Homo sapiens: one gene and its partners. The protein of the gene in region 4 purifies or fractionates together with the protein of the main gene of each other region. This does not show direct contact. Each region holds a gene or a part of one and is shown on either strand. Other genes may lie near its edges. The genes, in order: CCDC88A, PPFIBP1, DDHD2 and RAPGEF5.

The links.
Region 1: the proteins of RAPGEF5 (region 4) and CCDC88A purify together in Homo sapiens (affinity purification with mass spectrometry; 2 studies listed by BioGRID and IntAct, with this or other methods). This does not show direct contact.
Region 2: the proteins of RAPGEF5 (region 4) and PPFIBP1 purify together in Homo sapiens (affinity purification with mass spectrometry; 2 studies listed by BioGRID and IntAct, with this or other methods). This does not show direct contact.
Region 3: the proteins of RAPGEF5 (region 4) and DDHD2 purify together in Homo sapiens (affinity purification with mass spectrometry; 2 studies listed by BioGRID and IntAct, with this or other methods). This does not show direct contact.

Annotation. Positions count from the first base shown.
Region 1 is NC_000002.12:55,332,853-55,339,884, reverse strand, and holds part of CCDC88A (girdin), read left to right. Parts: exon of another isoform or gene 1-236; coding exon 237-421; intron 422-3,066; coding exon 3,067-3,204; intron 3,205-4,720; coding exon 4,721-5,791; intron 5,792-7,032. UniProt on the Homo sapiens protein: Bifunctional modulator of guanine nucleotide-binding proteins (G proteins). Acts as a non-receptor guanine nucleotide exchange factor which binds to and activates guanine nucleotide-binding protein G(i) alpha subunits.
Region 2 is NC_000012.12:27,674,204-27,681,235, reverse strand, and holds part of PPFIBP1 (liprin-beta-1), read right to left. Parts: coding exon 7,015-7,032; intron 4,809-7,014; coding exon 4,637-4,808; intron 4,530-4,636; coding exon of another isoform or gene 4,462-4,529; exon of another isoform or gene 4,173-4,461; coding exon 4,140-4,172; intron 1,748-4,139; coding exon 1,597-1,747; intron 1,304-1,596; coding exon 1,175-1,303; intron 1-1,174. UniProt on the Homo sapiens protein: May regulate the disassembly of focal adhesions. Did not bind receptor-like tyrosine phosphatases type 2A.
Region 3 is NC_000008.11:38,248,561-38,255,592, forward strand, and holds part of DDHD2 (triacylglycerol hydrolase DDHD2), read left to right. Parts: intron 1-1,147; coding exon 1,148-1,243; intron 1,244-3,351; coding exon 3,352-3,468; intron 3,469-3,571; coding exon 3,572-3,727; intron 3,728-4,161; coding exon 4,162-4,264; intron 4,265-4,396; coding exon 4,397-4,567; intron 4,568-4,995; coding exon 4,996-5,158; intron 5,159-7,032. UniProt on the Homo sapiens protein: Diacylglycerol (DAG) and triacylglycerol (TAG) lipase required for proper lipid homeostasis in the central nervous system. It cooperates with PNPLA2/ATGL in neuronal TAG catabolism and hydrolyzes sn-1,3 DAG downstream of PNPLA2/ATGL.
Region 4 is NC_000007.14:22,117,704-22,123,154, reverse strand, and holds the end of RAPGEF5 (rap guanine nucleotide exchange factor 5), read left to right. Parts: intron 1-633; coding exon 634-749; 3' UTR 750-4,919; downstream 4,920-5,451. UniProt on the Homo sapiens protein: Guanine nucleotide exchange factor (GEF) for RAP1A, RAP2A and MRAS/M-Ras-GTP. Its association with MRAS inhibits Rap1 activation.

The DNA of each region.
Region 1 (7,032 bases), on a different chromosome or scaffold from region 4:
ACTCCAGCCTGGGTGACAGAGAGAGACCCCGTCTCTTTAAAAAAAAGAAAAAAAGAAAAGGAAAAAAAAGATTTACTTCTTTTATCTTGTTTATCTTATATAACCTCATTGAATTTTTAATAAAGTTAAGGATCAGATGATGCAATGCATATACACTCAACTTTTTAAATAGTAAAGAGTAAACATAGTAAAAACAGTAAAGAGTAAATACAATGGTGTATTTTTCAATATTATAGCACCCCAGAAATCCCTGGGCCATGAGGTGAATGAGTTGACATCAAGTAGATTATTGAAGCTAGAGATGGAAAATCAAAGTTTGACAAAAACCGTAGAAGAGCTTCGGACTACTGTGGATTCTGTAGAAGGCAATGCTTCCAAAATCCTGAAAATGGAAAAAGAAAATCAAAGGCTCAGTAAAAAGGTAAATTAAAATGTAGTGTTTATTTTAATGTTAAAAAAACTTGTAAAAGTGTAAATAAATAGCCCATTTATTTTCCACTTTTTAAATGCACGCTCAATGTTATTTTAACTTGTTATGAAAATTTTCAAATATACACAAATATGGTGTGAATGAACCCTATACTCATTATTCAGCTTCAGCAATTAAGAACTTACTAGCTGATCTTGGCCAGGTGCGGGGGCTCACGCCTGTAATCCCAGCACTTTGGGAGGCCAAGGCAGATGGATAACCTGAGGTCGGGAGTTTGTGACCAGCCTAGCCAACATGGTGAAACCCTGTCTCCACTAAAAGTACAAAAATTAGCCGGGTGTGGTTGTGGGCGCCGGTGATCCCAGCTACTCGGGAGGATGAGGCAGGAGAATCTCTCTCGAACCCGGGAGGTGGAGGTTGAAGTGAGCTGAGATCACGCCACTGCACTCCAGTCTGGGCCATAGAGCAAGACTCAAAATCTCAAAAAAAAAAAAAAAGAATAAGCAGGGCTAGAGGAGTTACATTTACCAGTTTCCAAATAATGAATTGGTTCTCTCATATCTTCTTGAGAGAACTAGTGAGTGAGTTTCTTTAGTGTCATTATGAACCCATGAATTTAAAAATATTTGTATTGTTTCAATCCACTGCATTTGTTTTTCTTACTGTCTCAACTCGGGCTAGTGGAAGCCTCTTTAAAAGCTGCTTTGGTCCTGAATCCTTATGACATGGCCTTAGCACTCCTTAAGAGCTTTCTTGCTTTCTGCCATGACAAAATATTCTAGGCTCATCTTGAACATTTTCTGTCCCAGACCTGGAGACAGCCATTTCTCTGAAATTAGCCCTTATTCCTTTTAGTGGGAAATGATATTTAGAGACCACAATTTAGGCATTATGAAACCTGAATCTTAATCAGACTCTGGTTGAACAGAAATATTCAGTTGTGCAAGAACAAGTGTTTTATTTTTGCATATCTTTCTGCACACATAATTCTACATAAATAGAATCCCATCATAAAAACATGCATGATTAAGAATTGTTTCTAAGAAGTTCCTAAGTGATGCTCATCCTGCTGTCCTGGAATCATGCTTTGAGAACCACTGCTTTAGATTATTCAGAGGCTCCTTAGTATTCTTGTAAGATTTTTACTGTTTAAAAATGTTTTTACATTGTCTTCAGTCCATTAACTAAATAATCTTAATAAGCGTTTGACAATATAGTGTTAAAGTAGGATGACCATTTAGAATTTAGAACAGTTTTATTTTGGTTGTCATTAAAATTGGGCCTGTAGAGTACAGTTTCTTTTTGAAATTAGCTTTGAAGTTTAATATGTAAATTCTTAGTGATTCAAGCAATTTTTGATTAATTGTAAAAATGATTTTTTTATAAACTGAATGTTTCACTTTAATCCCATTGATACAAAACAACAAATGAGTTTCAATAATTGTTATTCTTATATTTCCATCTATGTAATGTGAGAACCTGATTAATTATTCACAGCTGAAAGCTTCCTGAACTGTAAATTAATGTTGAATTGAGTTATTGGATAAGTTTTTTGACCTGATGCTTTTCATATTATTATTATTATTATCATCATTATTATTGGTAGTAGTATTTCGAGCTAGGGTCTCACTATATCACCCAGGCTGGAGTGCAGTGGTGCGATCTCAGCTCACTGCAACCTCTGCTTCTCAGGCTTAAGCAGTCCTCCCACCTCAGCCTCTCAAGTAGCTAGGACTACAGGCACAGGCCACCATGCCTGGCTAAGTTTTTTTGTTTTTTGTTTTGTTTTTGGTAGAGACATCGTTTCACTGTGTTGCCCAGGCTGGAAATATTATTGGAAGATTGTTTCTGTGTGTAGTTATTTCCATTAATGTTAAAATAGAAAAATTAAAATTGCTTTAGAGTGCTTCATTATTGACATAAGAATTTAACATTTAACTTGCAGTAGAATGTTTTATAAAGTCTTCTTGATTTTTTAAATTGCCTGGTTTGAATATGTTATATGATAATGGGAAAATCAATAGTCTTAGCATATTTTTAACTTTAATTTGCTATTTTGTACATATTAACTACCAGTATTTTTCATCTCTAAAATGCGTAATTGAAAAGAAATTTGAACCTAAAATATAAATATTAGCCCTTTTTTATGGTAGTATTTTTCTCCTTTTTTATCTTAAAGGAAGTCCTTTCTTTTTTCATTAAGCTTATACTGTACTGTTTATCATCTTTTCCTTCATGCTTTTTATATCTTCTCCTGCCTTCTTGCTCACTGAAATTCTCTGAGTATAAGTAAAATTTTACTTTACAAATCCACTCAAGCCAAGTGAATCTTTAAATAAAGTTTGTATAGTTCTCATATAGCATATTATCATTTATTGAGCTGGATTTGTCTTTGTGTTTAGAAAGTGAAATTTACCCCAAAAGATGCACAAGGATAAGAAATCATGTCTGCATATTTTATACAGCTACAGAAATTAGCATGGAATGCTACTTGAATTTCTATACTAATTTCTTAAATTTTAGCATTTGGATATTAACACTATTTTATCCTTTATTCAGCGATTATGTTTTGTTTTGACATGTTTTCACTGTTACAGAATATTTAACGTATTGTTTTGTGATTTAATTTTCTCTAGGTTGAGATTCTTGAAAATGAGATTGTTCAAGAAAAGCAAAGTCTTCAGAATTGTCAGAATTTAAGCAAGGATCTAATGAAGGAGAAAGCTCAGCTTGAAAAAACAATAGAAACACTGAGAGAAAATTCAGAGAGACAGGTTCATACATTTTTTACTAAGTAAACAATGTATTTTAAAATTTATTAGCAAAAGTTATTTAAAATATATGCAAACAAAATGTTCATATAAACATTAAAGGGAAATATTTTAGAATTTTTTTATTTTAAAGTAATTATAATTTTACCTCATTTTCTAACCTATGTGTCTTAGGAAAGTTGAAGAGAAAGCTTAGAGTTTTTTAAACTACCATTGTGCTTAATAATCATCTAGTATAAGCATTTGCAGTACTTGTGCTTTCAAGTGTCTGTGGAATAGGGCTGCCGATTCTAGAGTCCCTGAGTGGAGTTGGCCAGGAAATGGAGCTGTCCTCTGACCTACCAAAGAGGGAGAAATGTGGTGGCAACCACACTGTCTTGGATATTACCAAATTTGTTTTCAGCTCTTTAATGTTCATTCTCATTTTATGTTTGAGGAAACTGAGAACTGCATAGATTAATTGACTTATTTTTGAAATATTTATTTATTTGAGACAGGGTCCAGCTCTGTCACTCATGCTGGAGTGCAGTGGCACAATCATAGCTTACTGCAACCTCGAACACCTAGGCTCAAGCAATCCTTTCACCTTAGCTGGGACTACAGGCATGCACCACCATGCCCAGATAATTTTTTAATTTTTTTTTTTATTTTTTGGTAGAGACAAAGTATCACTATGCTCCCCAGGCTGGTCTCAAACCCCTGAGCTGAAGTGATATTCCTGCCTCAGCCTCCCGAAGTGCTAGGATTATAGGTGCCAGCCACCATGCTTGAGCATTAATTTTTTTAGAAGTTAAATTATTTGTTTATATCATCCAGGTACAGTCCTCAGACCAGCCATAAAAATGAAGGTTTCTTTAGAGATACAGAACCAAAATTCTAGACTAAGCTTCAATCTTCATTTTTCCAAGCTTGTTGAGATTATTTAACACACTAAATTTTGAGAATCATTGTATTAGATCACGCTATAAATTGGATGAATTAGTTCCCAAATGTACCCAGTGATTTTTGTGATTTTGATGCTTCCTACTTAGAATTCTTTTTGGGAATGAATACACACACATACAAACCCATATATACACATGTAATACAGCACATATTTACTGAGGACCCACTGTAGGCATTGCAAAGGTTACTTAGTAAAAGTAGAACCTTATGTTCTCAAGGAGGTATGTGTGTGTGTTACCTGTATTCCTATTTGAATTTGAAGCATGTAACTGTAAATAATCTGAAGACCATTATGATTAATAGAAAATACATTTCTCAACCGTTCCTTTAAACTGTGAACTTCCTAAAAACATGAACTTTAATGACCTCACAGTAAGTGTACACAGTGGTCTTCAGTAAATGACCTCACAGTAAGTGTACACAGTGGTCTTCAGTAAATACTTGTCAGAATTAAAAGTAAGACATGTTCTAGCACCCTTTTTTTGTTCCCCTTTTCTTGGTAGTTTTTGGAAGAGATAAACCATAGTTAGTTTTTCCTCAATTACAGCTTTTAATTATTTTCTTTTCAAATTAGATTAAGATACTGGAACAGGAAAATGAACATCTGAATCAAACAGTGTCTTCCTTAAGGCAGCGGTCCCAGATAAGTGCAGAAGCAAGAGTGAAAGACATTGAAAAAGAAAACAAAATTCTTCATGAATCTATCAAAGAAACAAGTAGCAAGCTAAGCAAGATTGAATTTGAAAAAAGACAAATTAAAAAAGAATTGGAACATTATAAAGAAAAAGGAGAACGAGCTGAAGAACTTGAAAATGAATTGCATCATCTTGAAAAAGAAAATGAATTATTACAGAAAAAAATAACTAATTTAAAAATTACTTGTGAAAAAATTGAGGCCTTAGAACAAGAAAATTCAGAGCTAGAAAGAGAAAATAGAAAATTAAAAAAAACATTGGATAGCTTTAAAAATCTGACCTTTCAGTTAGAATCCCTAGAAAAAGAGAATTCCCAACTTGATGAGGAAAACTTAGAACTGCGAAGGAATGTAGAATCTTTGAAGTGTGCAAGCATGAAAATGGCTCAGCTACAGCTAGAAAACAAAGAACTGGAAAGTGAAAAAGAGCAACTTAAGAAGGGTTTGGAGCTCCTGAAAGCATCTTTCAAGAAAACAGAACGCTTAGAAGTTAGCTACCAGGGTTTAGATATAGAAAATCAAAGACTGCAAAAAACTTTAGAGAACAGCAATAAAAAAATCCAGCAATTAGAGAGTGAACTACAAGACTTAGAGATGGAAAATCAAACATTGCAGAAAAACCTAGAAGAACTAAAAATATCTAGCAAAAGACTAGAACAGCTGGAAAAAGAAAATAAATCATTAGAGCAAGAGACTTCTCAACTGGAAAAGGATAAGAAACAATTGGAGAAGGAAAATAAGAGACTCCGACAACAAGCAGAAATTAAAGATACCACATTAGAAGAAAATAATGTGAAGATTGGAAATTTGGAAAAAGAAAACAAAACCCTATCCAAAGAAATTGGTATATATAAAGAATCTTGTGTCCGTCTGAAAGAACTAGAAAAAGAAAATAAGGAGCTTGTGAAAAGAGCAACTATTGATATAAAAACGTTGGTTACACTACGTGAGGTAAATATGTTTACCTAAATTAAGGCAAATTTTTTTTTATATTTTTAACTCAAGGTTTCTTTAAGTTTTATTGGAATCTATCAGTAATTTGCATCATTTATTTTATGGTTCAGTAGAATTTTGGAATTAGAACTAGAAATAGCTTCCAAGTTTCCTACTTTGTTAAACTAAGAAATACCTATAAATTGTATTTTTAAAAGAATTTGTAGTAATAAAGTTTCCTAGTGGTATCTGACTTATTACATTATAATTTTAAACCTTTATTTCAATATAATAATGTTTGATCAAGACACTAAATTCTAAGTATAATAAAGAAGCATGATAGCTACTATTTATTGAGTGCTGTGTGCCAAGTACTGGGCTAAAAACTTCATATAAGTTGTATATACATAAATAATATATACACACACACCCAAATATATATACACACATATATACATGCACATAATCTTTACAACTAATCCTTTATAAGTATTATATCCATTTTTTAGATGAGAAAACTGAGGTTCAGAAACATTAAATAAATTAGGATCACACAGCTAATAAATAGCAGAGTTGGATTACTGGATTCAAATCCAGATTTTTCAGACTCCAAAGCCCCATGAATTTTGACCTCAAAGCCAGAGAATGCAAATCAGGTTCAACCATTCAACACTGAGCAACTAGTATTTGCTTGAATCTATGTATCAAGAAGAATTCTGAAACTTACAGGAGTAAATTGGCAGTATGTCCTGTGAAACATGGTTGATGCAAGTCAGAAGGTATATGTTTGGCTCTTTTTTTCCCATCTCTAAGCATTATAATATGTGATAACCCTTTAAGTTCAATTTAAAAGTATATTAGCATTCTGGCAGAAGGTCACATTGGGCAGTCTGCATTTCTGCTAAAGAAGCATTGAGAGGGACCTTTTATTTTTTTCTTCTGTAGACTTATAAACATGAACAACAAGTTCCTTGTGCCTAAACTTCTAAGAACATCCTCTAGTTCTTCAGATCAGTATCATAGGGCCTCTTTCACTGGGAGAAGGGATCTTGTGGGAGAGAAGTATTATAGTCAACATATATTTATAAGAAGAAATGTGCACTAAAGTTCAGGCTCATTATTAAAAAGTAAATGGATATGATTTTCCCCAGTTTTCAAACCTAAATGTGTATTCACAAGTAAAGAGTTACTACTCCCTTTTAAGGTTTTGTTTAAAGTATTAGCAAAAAAAAGGAAAAAAGTTATTTCAACTAGGTTAT
Region 2 (7,032 bases), on a different chromosome or scaffold from region 4:
GATTGGATTCCCAAACAGGAAACTCAGTTGGACTGAAAGAAACTTAAGTCTAATTTGAACTAACTTTAGCAGAATTATGGTTTCTTTCCATATGGTAACCAATGAGAAGAGGGCAATATGTTGTCACTGAGTGTAGGAAACAATCAAAGCAAAATTCCTGTTTTCTTTTACTTAGATACACAAATAGTGTTCTTGTTCCGGGGTGGGGGCAGGGTGCGGAGGGGAAGATGAATGGTTTTTTTTAAATAGTACAAGGAGCTCTACTGTGTTCAAAGACAACATATGGCAAATGAAACTGTTTGGTATTTGAAGAAGGCCAAAGAGAGTTTCCTCCTTGATGTAACCTATGTCCAGTGTTCCACCTGTATGGGAGGGGCTATATGTAAAGGGTTTCTAGTCAGTCTATTATACTGTTAAAAGATTTGGTATCAATGTCTTGTACTTTATGTTTGCCAACCCCACCCTCTTATGCACAGTGAGTCAATGTAGTAGTTCTAAGCCAGCCCTAAACTTTGGTTAAGAGTGTCAGAGCAGTTCTTAGAATCTTAATGGATAAAATATTATATAGTCCTGATAAATACAAGGATTCTGATAGCATTTTTGTCTTTAAGTGCTTTCATAGATTCTGTTACATGCTAATGTTTCTTGAGTAGTTATTATCTGCCAAATATTTAACACATATTAACTTATTTAACCTTCATGGTCAGCTTTTGGGGTAGGTACTAATTATGATGATGAGGAGACTGAGGCACAGGGTGTGGAAGCTGTTGCTCAAGGTCACCCAGCTGGTAGAAAGTGGTAAGGCCAGAAAGCAAATCCAAGTGGTCTGATTCTAGAACATACTCTTAACCACTATGCTATCCCATCTTTCCAAAGTTATGCTTTAGAGTACTTGTAATTACCATCTACGTAAAATTTAAGTCTGAGAGCCATTCTAACACAGATGCTGCTGACACTTTAGCTCTGGCCTCTCCCCTAGTTCGCACAGCCCTCACCTTCTGTTTGTTCATCAACCATTGACAAATTGCACGGCTCTAAAGATGATGGCCCCTTTCATTAGGCACAGCATTAAGCAATGACTTTGTTTAACCCAATGACAGTACTAATACTGCAGGACTCATGAGGCTATGATGCTTGGTAGAGATGCAAAAGTCTATCAGTTGGCTCTTCTTACCTGTTAGACTGTCCCAAGTCTCGAGACCAACCTAATCGGGGCCCCGCGGTTGCCCTTGTCCCTCCTCTTTTGAATTCAGGCTCAGACATGTCATCTGGGTTGAATGTAGTTGATTGACTTCTCCTAAGTCTAAAGAAGACAACACACATGGCCAGTATTAGACCTGAGGAGGCCTTAGACTTGTTAATCAGAACATTTTTAACTAGTGCACCTACTGGAACTAATCCTCTTTGTGTTGTTAACATAGACATTTAAATTTAAACTTTAACTAAGACCCAATGAGTTAATAAATCCCACATCACAATCCAAACTTCCTTCCATAAGAGGAATACAAAGGCCTTACAAAGTCCATACCCATGTCCAGCCACTTTTAAGCAACATGTAAGACAGGGCCCATTCCACTTGTTTACTGCTTTACTTACTTTCCAAAGAGTTTCATGATACCTCTGGATTTCTTTTTGGAATCTGGAGATGGAGGCGGTATCTGGAAGGGACTGTTCCTCTGTGAATCTTTTGGCCGAGAAGAAGCACCAGCCAGATCTAGGTGCTCTGCTGTCTCTTTTTCTGTTTCAGCTACTCCAAGAGCAGAATGCAGACAATGAATTTTAAAATATGGAATAAACATGATGTTAATCTTCTTGGTTCTAGAACTGTTAAGAATTCTTCTGTTGGTCTATAATCAGTGACTTACAAAGAGCACCTTGTAAATATTAGAAATGGAACACACATATACGTTCTGCTCCATAGTTTACTGTGTGTAAACTTAATAAAATTACAAGCCCTTTGGAGATTAAAAGAATGTGATAGGATTGCCACATTCTTTCCTTGAGTGATTTCAATTCATAATGGAATTATTCCCAATCTTTCCATAGCACGTGGTACTGTTGATTACCTGCTACATCCTTCAAAATCATCTCCTTTTGCTTCTTGACATGACCACTCTCCTACATCTGTCATCTGATAGTGTCTTTGCTGTAGCACCCCTGCTTTTTTTTCTTCCCCCATGCCACTTTAAGATTATATTCTAAATGCCCTCTAGAGGATCAGAATCTCTGGGCCTAATCTCTCTCTCTAGGCTCTGTATCTAAATGCCTGTGATATTCCCAATTCAGTGTGTCGGGACATCTGGGACTTCACAAACTCATCCAATTTCCCCGAGAGTCTTTTTCTCTCTTAAATGTTTTTTTTTTTTTTTTTTTTTTTTTGAGACAGAGTCTCACTCTGTTTCCCAGGCTGGAGTGCAGTGACATGATCTCGGCTTACTGCAACCTCCGCCTACTGGGTTCAAGCAATTCTCTGCCTCAGTGTCCCAGGTAGCTGGGATTACAGGCACCCGCCACCACACCTGGCTAATTTTTGTATTTTTAGTAGAGACAGGGTTTCACCATCTTGGCCAGGCTGGTCTTGAACTCCTGACCTCGTGATCCACCCACCTCGGCCTCCCAAAGTGCTGAGATTACAGGCGTGAGCCACCACGCCTGGCCTCGTCTCTTAAATGTTCTTATTTGATATTTGGTTAATATTAATTAATACTGTCCCTGTTACTCTAGCTCAGACTCTATGTCATTTTCCTTTTACTCCTTCTCCTTTGGCATTTACATCAAATCAGTTACCCAGTTCAAGCAATTCTTTATTTTTGAAATGTATTCCAATCTATTAAATCCTAGGCACTGAGAGAAGAATGAACTGGATATGCCTAATTTTTCTTTTGACATAAAGTAAGTGCCTGTTGATTTTACCTTAAAAGAATCACATCCACAGTTGCCACTCTCAGATCTCCAAGCATTAACTATTTCAGTTCTTTTAGCTGTCCCTTAGTGGACAATCCCATACTAGCAAACACAAGGGCTACTGTTGTCTTCAGTGTGAGATTTTATACTTTATAAAAGAAAGTAAAAGTTGTACTAAAATCACAAGAACAGTGTTTCAGCAAGATCTATGAGTTGCAGAAAGTTGATTTTTCTACAAAGCAGAGCTGTGATTATAGGTTATAATAAGCAGCATTTACCTCTTAGCATTAACAAAACAGTTCTTCTAAGAAAGATGCAAAAAAAAACTATTTGAAAATAGTTGTCTGAACAGATCAGTTTATTTTATGCATCCAGTGTTCATTCTAGACATTTATATCGATAGAGAGAGAAGTCCCGTTTGCTGGTCCATGTGAATAGATAGGTGGATATCTATACAAGGTAACAGCACCTTTTGGAAAAACCCAAAGGAACTTTCCCAATTCAAATCCTTCAACCACGATGGCTACAGGTGCCCCTGAAAATGCTGCCTAGCTTATCCTCATCTTAAAACTACCATATTTCTCTTTTTTATTTTGAGAACTTTTTTCCCCATTTGTCCCCTGCCTTACAAAGAGGAAAACTGAGCTGCCCCTCTTCTAAAATCACTTTGGGGGGTAACGCCTCAGATATCAAGTAAAGTTGCTTCTGTCATCACTAAATATTATCTCCATCTTCAAAGTAATAAAACGTCAGAAGAATGTTCCCCTAAGAGAAGTAAGCCTAAAACTATAATATTCAATGTCTTCTATAAACCTCCCTATATGGCCAAAAAAATTTCTTTTTGGAGGCTGGGGGAAATGTAAGCATGGAGAACGGACTGCAAGGACCTGGGAGTTAGTGTGTGGTAATATGCACTTCAAGGCTGAAAGAGCTGCAATGTACAATGCCAGGACATTCCTGCCCTGCACTCTGAGGGATGCTGCACACGTCTAGGTCCTCTCAAAGCTATTCACACAGTGAGTGTTACTAGTATTGGTTAAAACAGCATTTAGGCTTGGAAGCAAAGCCTCTACAGAGTCCTTTTTAGCAGAAGGTGGAAAGAACACTCCGGAATAGAGAACTACATTTTCTGATTGCTGTCAGATCGCTTTCTAGAGATCACAGATGCCAAGAGCAGGGATTAGATTGGTTTGGAGCACAGTGCTGGTGAAGGCTGGCATGCAGGGGTACAATACCTAGGGTGGGTGCACTGGCACTTCGTTTACGATCTTCAGATATCCCAACAACGCACACAATCACACGCAGCCCAATGGAGAGAACACAGAGATGACAAAATGAAATGCAGATCAGACTCCTCCTCGCCAAATACACACCGTGGAGGAGAGGCATGCGGCACACAGTGCTTCTGATGTTACACACAGGCTCAACGTCAATGTTAATTTATCCACTATCACAACAGATGGGAAACTCCATGATGAAGTCAAAGGGAATCATGATTTTAGGTCTTTCCGCTAAGTTTATACCACAGGAGAGAGCAGGGTGAGAGTCTATATATCTTCACAACACTAAATTAAATCCACGGAGGCATTTTTTGCTAAATTCCCCTAAGTCATTCACCTTCGTTTCTGAGAAAGAGAAATGAATCAATGAATGAAAGAGTAAGGGAAGGGAAGACACTGCTCTTTTCCTCCTTGTGGAAGAATTAGGGCAAAGGCATTTTGGTCATACGTACCTAAGTTTGGTGCACTTGCTGTTCTCTTGTTACTTTTGATTTTAAAAAAGCCCCGGCCAAAGGAAGATCTGACTTTTCGAGTGCCGAAGGGGTTGTCATCCATGGAGGTGTCCTGCCCTGGGGGCCTGGGAGGAAGGGTCCCAAATGGCCTGCTTTCTGCCGGAGCTCTGTCCTGAGAGGCAAATAAGAATAGTGAAACAGCTCTCAGGTGCAGCATCCTCAGCACATGCCAGGCTAACAGCAAATACTCACTCACGCCACATCCATGAGTTTATTCAAAAGAATAACTGAACTAATACATTGATCACCAATGTCAAATGCCTTATCAGAAGTTGAAAAAAAATCAATTCTGAAAGCTACTTAAGAAACAACAACAAAAGCAACAAGGAAAACATGTTCATCACTAATCTAGAATCGATATGTCTAGGGCTTTAAATATTTAGGATACAAAAATTCTTAAATTTTGTTTGCCTCATTCCTCAAAAGACATGGAGACATTACATAACCAGAATAATAGCAGCAGATTTCTGACTTTTCTAACAATTATGTCACGGATTTAGCTATAATACAGTTCATATTCTTATATTATAACTTTGTCAATAGAAGCCTAATATAATATTAATTATTCTACAAAGCAGGCATTAGTTCAAACTTCTATACCAGCAGTATAAGGAGATTCTATTCCAGTTATTTTAAATATTCTCCTCAAAGAATAAGAAAATGAAGGCACAGTGAGCAACTTTATTTTGAGCTTTTTGGTTCTTTGAATGGGCAATTAGAGCCAGCTGTAACACAGTATATTATTTTAGTATTTATACAAAGATGCTTTGCCTAGATCAATGTCATGAAGTGTTTCCCCTATGTTTTCATCTAGCAGTTTTATAGTTTCTGGTCTTATATGTAAGTTCTTAATCCATCTTGAGTTGATTTTTGTTGATTTGGTGACAGGTGAAGTCCAATTTCATTCTTCTACATATGGATATCTAATTTTCCCAGCACCATTTATTGAAGTGGGTGTCCTTTATACAAAGATACTTTTGTCTTCTTGTTTTCATTTCTCTATTCTTTCCCTCTGCTTCTTTTTTTTGCAGAAGTAGAAATAATTCTTGCCCTCTGCTTCTTTTTTTACAGAAGCAGAGAAAAGGGTGAGGGGATATAGGTATTTTAGGTGGTTATTTTACTCTATATATCTACAGCTCATAGAAACCAAAAGTTTACAGATGGCACAATTTAGTGATATTATCATCCATGGCTCAACAATGACGTCAAAATCATTTAACCATTTATTGAACTGAAAAGACAACAAGGATTTTAATTATAGCTGTCACCACTGGCTGCTTTGTCAATTCTATCCACATATGACTCAGGCACTAAGAGCCAACAGTCAAGAGACTGGATCTGGAGGTAGCCTATCAGGCTGTAATCTTCACAAGGTTAATGACAGAAAATCAGAGGACAGAACAGGCACAGTGGCTCATGCCTGTAATCCCAGTACTTTGAAAGGCAGAGGTGGGAGGATTACTTGAGCTCAGGAGTTCAAGATCAGCCTAGGCAACATGACAAGATCTCATCTGTACTTAAAAAATAAAAAATAAAAAAAAAAACAAACGAAAAAAAAAAACAGCCGAGTATGGTGGTGCACGCCTGTAATCCCAGCTACTTGAAAGGCTGAAGTGGGAAAATCACCTGAGCCCAGGAAATCGAGGCTACAGTGAGTTATAATTGCACCACTGCACTCCAGCCTGGACGACAAAGTGATACCATTTCAAAAAAAAAAAAAAAAAAAAATCAGGGGAAAGAAGAATTGAGCACATGTTGACGACATCTTTAAACATACCAAAATGTTTGCTTTAGATGGGCACCGGGTGTATAATCTAATGGTAATCTAAGAAGGGCTTTTGGGGAGGTCTAAGGAAGCTCAGTTATGGTCATTAGGAACATTAAGTAGCATGACTGAGAGACTATGGTTTTGTTTTTTAATAACTTACTGAAGTGAAATTCATAACAAAATTAACAATTTTAAAGTGCACAATTCAGTGGCATTTAGTATGTTACGATGTTGTGCAACCACCACCTCTACCTGCTTCCAAAACATTTCCATCATTCGAAAGCAAAACCCCTTACCCTTAAACAGCTTCTCCCCATTTTTCCCACCTCTTACCACTGGTAACCACCGATCTGCATTCTATTTCTATAGATTTATCTGTTCTGGATGTTTCACATAAACGGAATCATATAATATGTGAACTTTGTGTCTGGCTTCATTTAGCATAATGTTCTAGAGGTTCTGAAAGTTTTTATCTACTGGAGACATTTAAGCAATTTACATGTAATGGAAGTAGAAATATTTTTGCATTGTAATTTGGACAAAAAGTTACCTCTGAAGTCTTCTGAAT
Region 3 (7,032 bases), on a different chromosome or scaffold from region 4:
CATGGCAATTACAATAAGTAAGTAGGAAAAGTACACCGTGTTGTAAGAATTAACCTGGTCTCATAAGGTGCAGGAAGGCTTCCCTAATCAAATGAGTGATAGCTGGCTGGGTGTGGTGGCTCATGCCTGTAATCCCAGCACTTTGGGAGGCCGAGGTGGGCAGATCACGAGGTCAGGAGTTCGAGACCAATCTAGTCAACATGGTGAAACCCTGTCTGTACTAAAAATACAAAAATTAGCTGGGTGTGGTGGCACACACATGTAGTCCCAGCTACTTGGGAGGCTGAGGCAGGAGAATCGCTTGAACCCAGGAGGTGGAGGTTGCAGTGAGCTGAGATCACACCACTGCACTCCAGCCTGGGCGACAGAGCAAGACTCCATCTCAAAAAAAAAAAAAAAAAACGATGAGTGACACTTGAGATCTTGATTGTTAGTCTGTTCCATACTTGTGTGTTTGCTGTATGTTCTCAGTGCTTGCGTTCATCAGCAGGAGTATAATCCTTCTCAGGCATGTGACATCTAAGTCAGTATAGAAATCAAGGAAGTTTTTTTGTTTTGTTTTGTTTTTTTGAGACGGAGTCTTGCTCTGTTGCCCAGGCTGGAGTGCAGTGGCGCGATCTCGGCTCACTGCAAGCTCTGCCTTCCGGGTTCACGCCATTCTCCTGCCTCAGCCTCCTGTGTAGCTGGGAATACAGGTGACTGCCACTGCGCCTGGCTAATTTTTTTTGTATTTTTAGTAGAGACGGGGTTTCACCATGGTCTCCATCTCCTGACCTCATGATCCACCCGCCTCGGCCTCCCAAAGTGCTGGGATTACAGGCGTGAGCCACCGCGCCTGGCCAGAAATCAAGGAAGATTTTTATGTCCTGAAGTCCTTAGATACCCAACTTCTCTGTTTTTTTTTTTTTTTTTTAACAATAACAATGTCTATATTATTGTAACATTGATATTATAAGTATTGATATTTTCTATTCTTTTTTAGGCTGTTTCATGAATAAAACAGGTCCTTTTTTCTGGAAGTTATTCTATGATGTTTTACTACTAGAGAGACAGGCAGCAACAGAGTGCCTAGGCCTTGTTCCTCTTAGGGGACAGGATTGATTTTATTTTGTCTAGAAATAAGAAAGACTTGATTTTCTATGCCTAGGCTTTATGTACAGACCGAGATCTTCAGGAAATAGGAATTCCTTTAGGACCAAGAAAGAAGATATTAAACTATTTCAGCACCAGAAAAAACTCAATGGTATGTGCCTAATACAGCTTGTTGGACTAAACAATTCTTTGATGTCCATAGTGTGTCCTTGTGCTTTGTGGGATGTTTACTCTGGGGAGCCAAGCAGTTTTTTGGTAATTGATCTTTGGCTCTTTTTTTTTGAGACAGGGTCTCGCTCTGTCACTCAGGCTGGAGTGCAGTGGTGTGATCCCAGCTCATTGCAACCTCTGCCTCCCGGGTTCAAGCGATTCTCCTGCCTCAGCCTCTCGAGTAGCTGGGACTACAGGCGCCCACCACCATGCCTGGCTAATTTTTGTATTTTTAATAGAGACGGTGTTTCACCATATTGGCCAGGCTGGTCTCAAACTCCTGACCTTGTGATCTGCCCGCCTTGGCCTCCCAAAGTGCTGGGATTACAGGTGTGAGCCACCCGCCTGGCCGATCTTTGGCTCTCTTTCTAGAAATTAAACACATTTTCTTTTTTACATTCTTTTTTTTTTCTTTTCCTGGAAATGAAATCTCGCTGTGTTGCCCGGGGTGGAGTATAGTGGGTGGTCTCGGCTCACTGCAACCTCCACCTTCCAGGTTCAAGCAATTCTCCTGCTTCATCCTCTTGAGTAGCTGGGATTCCAGGTGTGCACCACCATGCCCAGCTAACTTTTTGTATTTTTAGTAGAGACGGGGTTTCACTATGTTGGCCAGGCTGGTCTTGAACTCCTGACCTCAGATGACCCATGTGCCTCAGCCTCCCAAAGTGCTGCACCGCTCCTGGCCCTTCTTTTTTTACATCCTTAAAAGTATTATTAGCTTCAGAAGTCTTCTCTCCTCTGGAATTCTCCTACCATTTATTTATTTATTTATTTTTTGCTTTTTTCTTTTCATGAGAGTTTTACCAATATCTACTTCACATCACATACCATAAAATTCACCCTTTTAAAGTTTACAATTTAATGGTTTTTAGTATATTCATAGAGTTATGTAACCATTACCACTATCCAATTTCAGCACATTTCCATTGTCCCTTAGGGAAACCCCATACCCATTTGCTGTCACTCCCCATTGCTCCCTGCCCCCAGCCTCTGTCAACCACTAATCTACTTTCTGTTTCTACAGATTTGCTTATTTTGGACATTCCATATAAATGGAATGTCCTTTTGAGCCATGTGTCTGACTTCTTTCACTTAGCATAATATTCTGAAGGTTTACCTGTGTTAACAGTACTTCCACATTCAGTTTTTCTGGTCACTGAATTTCTAACTCCATATCTTATTAGTTAGTTTTTTTCTTTTTGAGTCGGAGTGTTGCTCTGTCGCCCAGGATGGAGTGCAGTTGCACGATCTTGGCTCAATTGCAACCTCCGCCTCCTGGATTCAAGTGATTCTCCTGCTTCAGCTTCCTGAGTAGCTGGGATTACAGACACGCGACACCACACCCAGCTAATTTTTGTATTTTTAGTATGGGGTTTCACCATGTTGGCCAGGCTGGTCTTGAGCTCCTGACCTCAAGTGATCCGCCCACCTCAGCCTCCCAAAGTGCTGGGATTACAGGCGTGAGCCACCATGCCTGGCCAGTAGTTAGTTCTTTTCCAACTTTTTAGCAGGTGGCTCATTTCTTTTTAAAGACTCAGTTCTTGGCCCAGCCCATCGACATCCTACTTCCCTTGATTACAGAGGCACAGCACTTCATAGAACTCTAGCAATCCTCAGCATTATCTTCCCACAGTGCCCTGCTATTGTTTTCTCTTATGATTGTTGCCTAAAGTTTCAACGCTACTGAAATGGCTATGTACAACTTTCATCATTTTAGAGCATCTAAGAATGTCAATTAACAATTTAAGGCAATAATTTAATCTTGTTTTCTGAGGAAATCTTCCTAGAATTTTTGGCTGCCATTTCAGAACTTTCCCAAGGGTCCTTTCAAACCAGTAGAAAACTATATAATCCTTTGGCTATACTTTTACTATATAGTAGCTCCCCATACTTTTTTTTTAAATAGAGACTATGTTGCCCACGTTGGACTTGAACTCTTGGGCTTAAACAATCCTACCTACCTACCTACCTCAGGGTCCTGAGTAGCTGGGACTACAGGTGCATGCCGTCATGCCCAGCTTCTCCACATAACTATTTTTTATTCTTTAGGGTATTAAGAGACCAGCCCCGCAGCCTGCTTCAGGGGCAAACATCCCCAAAGAATCTGAGTTCTGCAGTAGCAGTAATACTAGAAATGGTGACTATCTGGATGTTGGCATTGGGCAGGTAACTAATTCTCTTTGATCATTTTACAGCCTGCTATTTGTATGGTAGAAACAGATGTAACTTTTGTTATTAATGAGAGATGCTTTTATTTTCCTCCTTTGAGGTGTCTGTGAAATACCCCCGGCTCATCTATAAACCAGAGATATTCTTTGCCTTTGGATCTCCCATTGGAATGTTCCTTACTGTCCGAGGACTAAAAAGAATTGATCCCAACTACAGATTTCCAACGTGCAAAGGTTTCTTCAATATTTATCACCCTGTAAGCATTGTACAGCTATTGTGGTTTTACCTAAATATCAGGGCTTATTGTTAAAGAACATAGGATTTTCTGTTGTGTTGATTTTTTTTTCCTATTCCATTGTCTAGCAATGAGACAACTTATAATAGTATTGATTTGGAAGTGATGGAGCAGAACTGTACATTTTTTTAAATGAACTTATGATTATTGTTTAAGATACATAGTTCTGGTTGTACATGGTGACTAATGCCTGTCATCCCAGCACTTTGGGAGGTCAAGGCAGGAGGATTGCTTGAGCCTAGGAGTTGAAGGCTACAGTGAGCCATGATTGCACCACTGCACTCCAGCCTGGGTGACAGAGCGAGACCTCATCTCAAAAAAAAAAAAAAAAAAGTTATATAGTTTCCAGACTGTGCTTAGCAGAGGTAAATGTAGCTCTTGTTTTTCCTATGTAGTTTGATCCTGTGGCCTATAGGATTGAACCAATGGTGGTCCCAGGAGTGGAATTTGAGCCAATGCTGATCCCACATCATAAAGGCAGGAAGCGGATGCACTTAGGTAAGTCCGAGCATAGAACTTGATAATTCTAGACCTTTTGGCCAGTGCAAAGGGCATCATTCACTCTGTTCAGCTATGTTGGACCCTAAGCTCTTTGTAAATCATTTAATGTTCTTTATTTATATGTTTCAGAACTGAGAGAGGGCTTGACCAGGATGAGTATGGACCTTAAGAACAACTTGCTAGGTTCGCTGCGGATGGCCTGGAAGTCTTTTACCAGAGCTCCATACCCTGCCTTACAAGCTTCAGAAACACCAGAAGAAACTGAAGCAGAACCTGAATCAACTTCAGAGAAGCCTAGTGGTCAGTGACACTGTACACATTGACCAGCTGCCAGATAAGAGGGATGCCATGGTGTGGCGTTTTTCATAGTTAATTTAATTTAATTTCACATTTAATTTCATAGTTAATATTGCATTCTTTTGCTTTAGTTTTCAACTTCTAAAGAGCTCTATTCCTGCTTGCATTTAGTATAAACCCAAGGCAAATGACCTAGCTATCAATGGTATAGGTAATGAGATGTGTTGCGCAAAAGCAAAAAAGGGGATTGGACAAAATTACTGTGACCTGAGAAGGAGCTTGAAGGAGATTGAGAGGAGGAAGATGGGAGAGAGCTCTCTGAACAGAGAGTAGCTCATTCTCTGGTAAACTTGGAGTGTGAGGAGAAGTTAACAGGATAACCCTGAAGGCCAAAAGGTTTTAGATTCTTATTATGGTTCTTCCATATCCAGATGTTAACACAGAAGAGACCTCTGTGGCAGTTAAAGAAGAAGTCCTGCCTATCAATGTGGGGATGCTGAATGGAGGCCAACGCATTGACTATGTGCTACAGGAGAAGCCTATTGAAAGTTTTAATGAGTATTTATTTGCTTTACAAAGCCATCTATGCTACTGGTAAATGTTGTTTATTTTTGTCTGTTTTGTTTGTTTACCTGTTTCATAGATATTTGATAGATGTAGAAAAAGGAGGATAGGCCAGGTGCATTGGCTCAGGCTTATAATCTCAGCACTTTGGGAGGCCAAGGTGGGAGGATTGCTTGAGTTCAGGAGTTTGAGACCGGCCTGGGAAACATAGCAAGACCTCATCTCTACAAAAACTAAATTAGCTGGGCGTGGTGGTATGCGCTTATAGTCCCAGCTACTTGGGAGGCTGAGGCAGGAGAGTCACTTGAGCCCAGGAGTTTGAGACCACAGTGAGCCATGATCACACCACTGCACTCTAGCCTGGGTGACAGAGCAAGACCCTGTCTCAAAAAAAAAAAAAGACCTGTGTACCTTTGGAATTAAAATGACTTCTCATTTAGACAGCACAAGCACAATCATGTCATTTCAAGAATCTGGTTTAAACACACTGTTGTTTTATTTTGCAGCTGGGTAGAACATGGTTGAGGCTAATGATGCCAACAACCATAAGTTCAATTATCTTGGTGTTAAAAATGTGTCTTTTGGCCATTTAGGTGCACATGAATGAACTGGAACAAATATTACTGTTGCTGGAAGTCTTATAGCAAACCCATTTGAAAGCATTTATGGTAGCTGTGACAGAATTAATTATTATTATTTTATCATTATTTGAGACAGGGTCTTGCTGTGTCACCCAGGCTGGAGTGCAGTGGCATGCTCATGGTTCACTGCAGCCTTGACCTCCTGGACTCAAGTGATCCTCCCCCCTCAGTCTCCCTAATAAGTAGGATGACCGTTGTGCACCACCATGCCCAGCTAATTTTTGTACAGACAGGGTTTCGCCATGTTGCCCAGGCTGGTCTAAACTTCAAGCAATCAATCCGCCTCCACCTCTGCCTCCCAAAGTGCTGGAATTACAGGCATGAGCCACCACGCCTGGGCAGAATTATTATTAAATATAATTGGTTACCTGATGGATTGTAGAATGGATTAATGATGCTTATTGAAATTCAGGCCGGGTATGGTGGCTCATGCTTATAATCCCAGCACTTTGGGAGGCCGAGGAAGGAGGATTGCTTGAGGCCAGGAGTTGAAGGCTGCAGTGAGCCATGATGGTGCCACCGCACCCTAGCCTGAGTGACAGAGCGAGACCATGTCTGAAAAAAAATAGTATAAAATAATACTAATTAATCCCTGAAGAAGTTGACATAAAAATAAAGTAAGGGAAATAAGATGGGTCAGAGATAAGTGTTTTAAAAATGAAAGCTCAGACCAGCATGGCCAACATGGCGAAATCCTGTCTCTACCAAAAATACAATTAGCCAGGTGTGGTGGTGCATGCCTGTAGTCCCAGCTACTAGGGAGGCTGAGACAGGAGAATTGCCTGAACCTGGGAGGCAGAGGTTGCAGTGAGCGAGATCACGGCCACCGCAGTCCAGCCTGGGTGACAGAGCGAGACTCCATCTCAAAAAAAAAAAAAAAAAAAGCAAGCTCAAAGGTCCTAAGAATAATTTTTCCCTTGAATTCTGATGAGGAATTATCATCTGATGCAATCACTATCGTTTGTATATAATATATACAGTAGAGGCCAAAAGCAATCTTGTAAGGGGCTAAAATAATGCTAAGAATGATCTCTGGTGATCTGGCTTGATAGAAAAGAAAGCAGAGTTCTTTTAATATTTCTGTGTGGGCAGTACATTCATATGGTTTGAAATTCAAAGAAAGAAAAATAATGAAAAGCCTCTTTTTTATTTTGTTTCTTGCAATCAGTTTCTTCCCCATATACAACTAATGTAAAATGTCTTCCAGCCATCTATTTTATGCCTCCATAATAAATATATGTATGTGAATATATTCTTTCCCTT
Region 4 (5,451 bases):
AGACTTTAGTCCATACACATACTTTCTGAAGCTATTTCGTCTGTTAACCACATCTTAGAGTCTGTTCTGTTGTATCTGTTCATTCAGTTGCTCCATTAAATTTTTTTTTCCAAAAAATGAGAATACCAAAGAATTGTACAAAATCTAAACAACAGAAAAAGAGTGATTGCATTCATATGCTAAATACATTATCAGCGATTTTCAACGCTTCTAGACTGAGATATAGGACCCAGTGCTGGCCATTTAAACAGGTAACTGCTGTGAAAGGCTACCTAAAAGGGCTCAGGAACCATCTGTCCTGGGTCCGAATCCTGGCTGTGACAGTTAACTTGCTGCGTGACTGTGCTCAGTTTCCCCATCTGTGGAATGAGATAATAACGTAATTTCTAAATAATATACAATGTTAGGTAATAAATGCTATAAGTATCCTGCCAGTCTGATTGCCTGACCTGAGGAATCCATTCTGAGCTGAAAAAGCATTTCTACTGTAGGACAAGGACACCTCTTATGGGATTCTGACTAATGAGAACCCACCTAGTACATTTACTCAGCCTTAGTGTGGGGTTTTGTTGGTATGTAGATACAGCATTACTGCTCTCCTGAGATTGTCTTTTTTCCCCCTCTAAACAACAGGTGACCTGTCTCCAAAAGAGCATCAAGAGTTAAAGTCCTATGTTAATCACCTGTATGTCATTGACAGCCAGCAGGCTCTGTTTGAGCTCTCACACAGGATCGAGCCTCGGGTGTGAGCCCCACTGCCTCACCTCCCCTGTATCTGCAGCACTTTGAGCTACGGGAATGTCTATGCCAAGCACGTTGCTTTCCTGTGAGAAAAGAAGTTGCTGAGTTTTATCAGTATAACCCAAGACATTCACAGGAAAGCCAGCCAAAGCGTGTTCAGGAAGTGATGTCAGCCACCAGAGAGGGGGAGAGGTTTCTCCATGCTACTCTCGGGACAAGAAGGCAGAAGGAGAGTCAGAAGCATTCTTGAGATGGAGAAGGCTGGTTTCTTATGATCACATTGTTGATCCAGTCCAGTTTTCAATATGAGATGTGCCAGCATCAAGACAAGACAACGTCTTGACATGCAATGACCAAATATTTCATTAAGAGCGTGCATGAAACAGGAAGGAGTTTTTACTTTGCCTAGTTTTAGATTACTGTCCATAAGCTGTCAAAGAAGTCATTCTTTTGAACACCTGATGACAGAGACAGCATCTCTAGATCTCCAGGGAGGAGAGGTTTCTGTTGATACAACCTGTGACATCACCAAAAGCCACTTGTGTCTAGGGAGTTAGTGAGGACTGCAGCTAGCATCCATGCTCTGATGGGCAGATGAACAATGTCAAGGTGTGCATCACTTTGCACCACAATCAACTATTGACACATGCTTGCAGGTGAAATTAGTTTCTGTACAACTGATTTGCAGCTATAGGCAAGGTAGATGAAGTTGCTTTGCCAGTAAGGAAAAATAGTAATCTTTAAGAAATTGACTCATTGTTTAATTTCTGGGGATTTTCTTTATACTTCTAAGCAGGCTCTTATCTTTTATTGGACATAATATGATTTTGAAAAAGCACAGTGCCTGACACATTGCAAACACTCACCAACTGCTTGCTGAGGTGACAGAGTCACAAAAGTCTGCATTCTTGTGCCTGATGATGCATTTTGCGTACCTCATACAGGCTCCTTGCCCACACTATGGAATGACAGCAGCCAGTGCAGGGAGGTTAAGTGACATTTAATGAGTGAAGCACTTAGCACTCTCTAGGTAATAAGATAGTGGTAATTACTAGTGTTTTGGCAAATGAAAAATGCCCTGAAATAGCCAAATGTCTGATTAATGTTGGCAACTTAGAAGTCCTATAATCCAACTACCAGCCAAAGCAGGGAGCCTTTCTATAATTTGCCTTTTTTTTTTTTTTTTTCAAAATCTGAGTCTTCTAAAATCTTATTATTCCCATTTTTACCAATTGAGGCTCCTGTAGCAAATAAGACCTCTTGATATTTTCAAGGACTGGTTAGAGGATTTCTTTCAACCTTCACATGAACAAAACAGCCTATGGGTCAAAATAATGAAATCCACCCCTGCCTGCTAGATACTTGTCACCTTGCTAAAATGCAAGGGCCTGGTCCATTCATTTTCCAAATGCAGGAGTCTTGGTGCACTTCTCACTCTTCCTGCCTGTTCATCTCTTTCATGCCCACACAGACCTGTTTCCTTTTTGTCTCATCAACGCCTCATTCATCCTCATTACTGAGGCGTGTCCAATGCTTTTTGACATCTTTATAGCAGTGCTGTTTCCTGGGCTCAGGAACCACACTGAGCTTGAGATACTGCTGGAAGGAACCATGTGGAGAGAAGGTTTGGGAGAACTTTGAGAGAGACTTAGTTTGGCCCAGCATGTAAAACTTCAGTCCTGAACATTTATAGGGTTTTATAGAAGGGCATCCTCCAGGGCTGGTCCATTCAGAGAAATGCTGCATGCTGCCGTCATGGAATGTGGCCCACAGGACACCAGAGCCGTGAGAACCGGAGAGCAGACTTCCCTCACGGCTGGGCTGAGCAAACCCTCCAAAGCCCTCCTCACGCAGTTACTAACAATAGCATGGGCTTACAGCACAAGCACGTGTTCTCACCTTTTTCCTATGCCCTGGACTAAGGTTTGGCCAGTGTAATCATATAAGGCCATCCTGACATTGTTTCTGTGTTTCAAAATTTGGATTTTTATTTACATTAGAACTACATTGCTCCTAGTAGAACATTACCTTTAGGGGACTAATTTTCCATGGAGAACTATTTCAGCATATTGCATGCTGCTCAGACCCCAAGTCAGATATGCCCACCAAGCCAGATGAAGCTACACAAATGTGGTATTTAAATGCATTTTGTACAGTGACTTCAGAGTATCTCACATGACATGGGTGTAAACTGGCTGGGGAGAAAATGATGCTTGTTCACCTCTTCCTCCAGCCGTGGTTAGGTGGTCCTAGGGGTAGCAGAGGGAAGGGAGGATTTTGTGCAGTCAAGATTTGCTTTTCCATCCTTGTCTTCTGAATGTCTAAAATCTCTGCATCTTTCTGAAGTTTAACAACTGTCTCCAGAGGTTTGCCAGGCAGCAGCTCTCAGAAGTTTCCAAAGCTTTGCAGAATCTTAGATCTGGAATTAAAGAATTCAAGCCCGAATTGTGAGAACCAGATATTACTCAACAGAAAGCTCTTTCTAAGGAATCTGAGCTGTTCACTGGTGGACAGTGGTGGGGCTTGAGTGCTCCTTGTTAATAGGATGGGCCATGCACCCTCTCTGGATATTCACCAAGGCCTCTTCAGAATAGGGTTTGTTCTGGCTAGAAGCGTGGTCTAGAAGATGGCTAAGCTCTTTGCCAGCTCTCATTTGGAGTTTTATTATTGCATAAAATCTTCGCTCACTCTGCAAATCTTACGTAATCTGGCACCTTCGGCACCAGGTGGTGCAGGGGCACTTCTAAGTGGGCTCTTTTTGTTACAGCACAACTCTCAGACAGTCCTGTGGGTCTTTGGATTCGTCAGCATTCCAGCAAACTAGCCCTGCTTAGAAGTTAGCACAAGACAGCAGAATGCAGGACCCCGTAGGCAAAATCACAACCTTGCTATTAAAAAAAATTTTGTTTTACATACACATTTGCAGGTGTTCCCTAGAGTGTGGTGTTTTGAATTTGCTCTTTGTCATCTGTATAATTGCCAAATGATTATAGTGATACACATGACCTGCATTCACTTTTTTCTAGTTTCCTTAATTATGTTTAGAATAAATTCATTTCCCTAGACCGAGAACCACAAACAGGTAGTGTGGAGCATACACCGAATTTAGAAGCATGTGGATAAGGTCAGTGCTCACACTGCCTAGTCCACAGGGAGAGGATGCTGCATGAATATATACTTGCCTCTGAGTGGAGGAGAAATCGTGGCATGAAAGAGAGAGTACCAGTGATGACTTCTTATCCCTGGAGCTGGGCTTTCACTGCTACCCATATCCCAGCCCTGCGAGTCTGTTCTAGCCAGCACAGACACCGCAGATCCGGAACTGAATGTTCCTAAATGGCGCAGCCAATCCAGGCTTTTCAGAAACTGGGCAAAAACATTAAAATGGGGACGATCGGGTCTTCCGCAGTGGTCCAACACAGGATTTCTTTTAAATGTTTCAAAAACATGTCCTTAAAATTTCAGCCTGCTTCTTAGCGAGTGGGCCAGTTTTGCTTAAAACTGGTGGGGGGGCGGGGGGGAAGTTTTTAAAAATTGCCAAAAAGTTAGATGCAAATGTATTACTGTATAAAGCAAAGCTGTATATACTAAACATTTTTTAGCAGAGTAATATTTATTTGCATAGTCTATTTATTGTATTCGTATCACACTGTTATTAAATACTGGGATGAAATCAGTGACCTGAAGCAAGAAATCTTGCCTTTTAATGTATCATTAATTAGGGCTGCTGTGATATTGTCAGCTTGCATTAACAATTAGAAGATAGAGAACCCGCCATCAGGGTGTCTACCTAACTTCTCAGGGACTACACTTGGTAGTTTTCCACCATTTAAAGAACTGGTAAATATGAAACATTTGTTGAGTTACCAGAATTGCCATTAACAGTGTTTTCTTTCCCATATTCCATGCTTTCTGCCTCTGTGTATATATATAATATATATGTATATGACTGTGCTGTGTATTTATCGAAGCTAGTAAGCAATAATTTATATGTAAAAATGGCCAAGCAATATAAGGTTAAAACTTATATAAGTAACCCTTACCTTATCTTGTATTTTCAATTTTTTTTTAAAACTGCTTTTCCAAATATGAGACTATGTTAAAGACACTATTCATGCCTCTTAGTTTCTTGCTTTCTCTGTGATGTGTGTGGATTAAATAGCTCTGTTCTGGCAGCATATGATGCTCAGGGGGTTGGAACTCAGAAGTCATTTGCTCACTGAAAGAGCTACAAGTAGATGAAGAGGTTCTCAGGCAGCCCATAGAAGCCTAAATCACTTATCCTGCCATTGGGTTATTGCAGAACCTAAACACCCTATTTTGGAAATTGCATCAGTGTTCTCAGAGTCTGAAATCTGGGGAATCTGGCAACCATTGTCATTGCCTCACCCTACTTGAGCAGGACCAGGAACTGTCCCTCACCAGCCCAGATACTGAGTGCAGCTACCAGCCCAGTGGTGATGCCCGGGGCCCAGGATAGAGGTCCTGACAGCGGAAGAGCCATGAGTGGATGGAGCAGCACAGGGATAATAAGGATGCTCTGGGGCAGTGGGATGCCAGGCGGTATATACACTAGCGCAGACTGAGTGTTCAGCATCTTCTCTCTGTGTAAACAGGAAATTTGTACATCTTGCCCATCGAGGTCAAGTTTGGCCTTTGGCATGTGTCCATCTCCCCCTTGCAGGGGGATTATAAACCTCACCTTCTTGA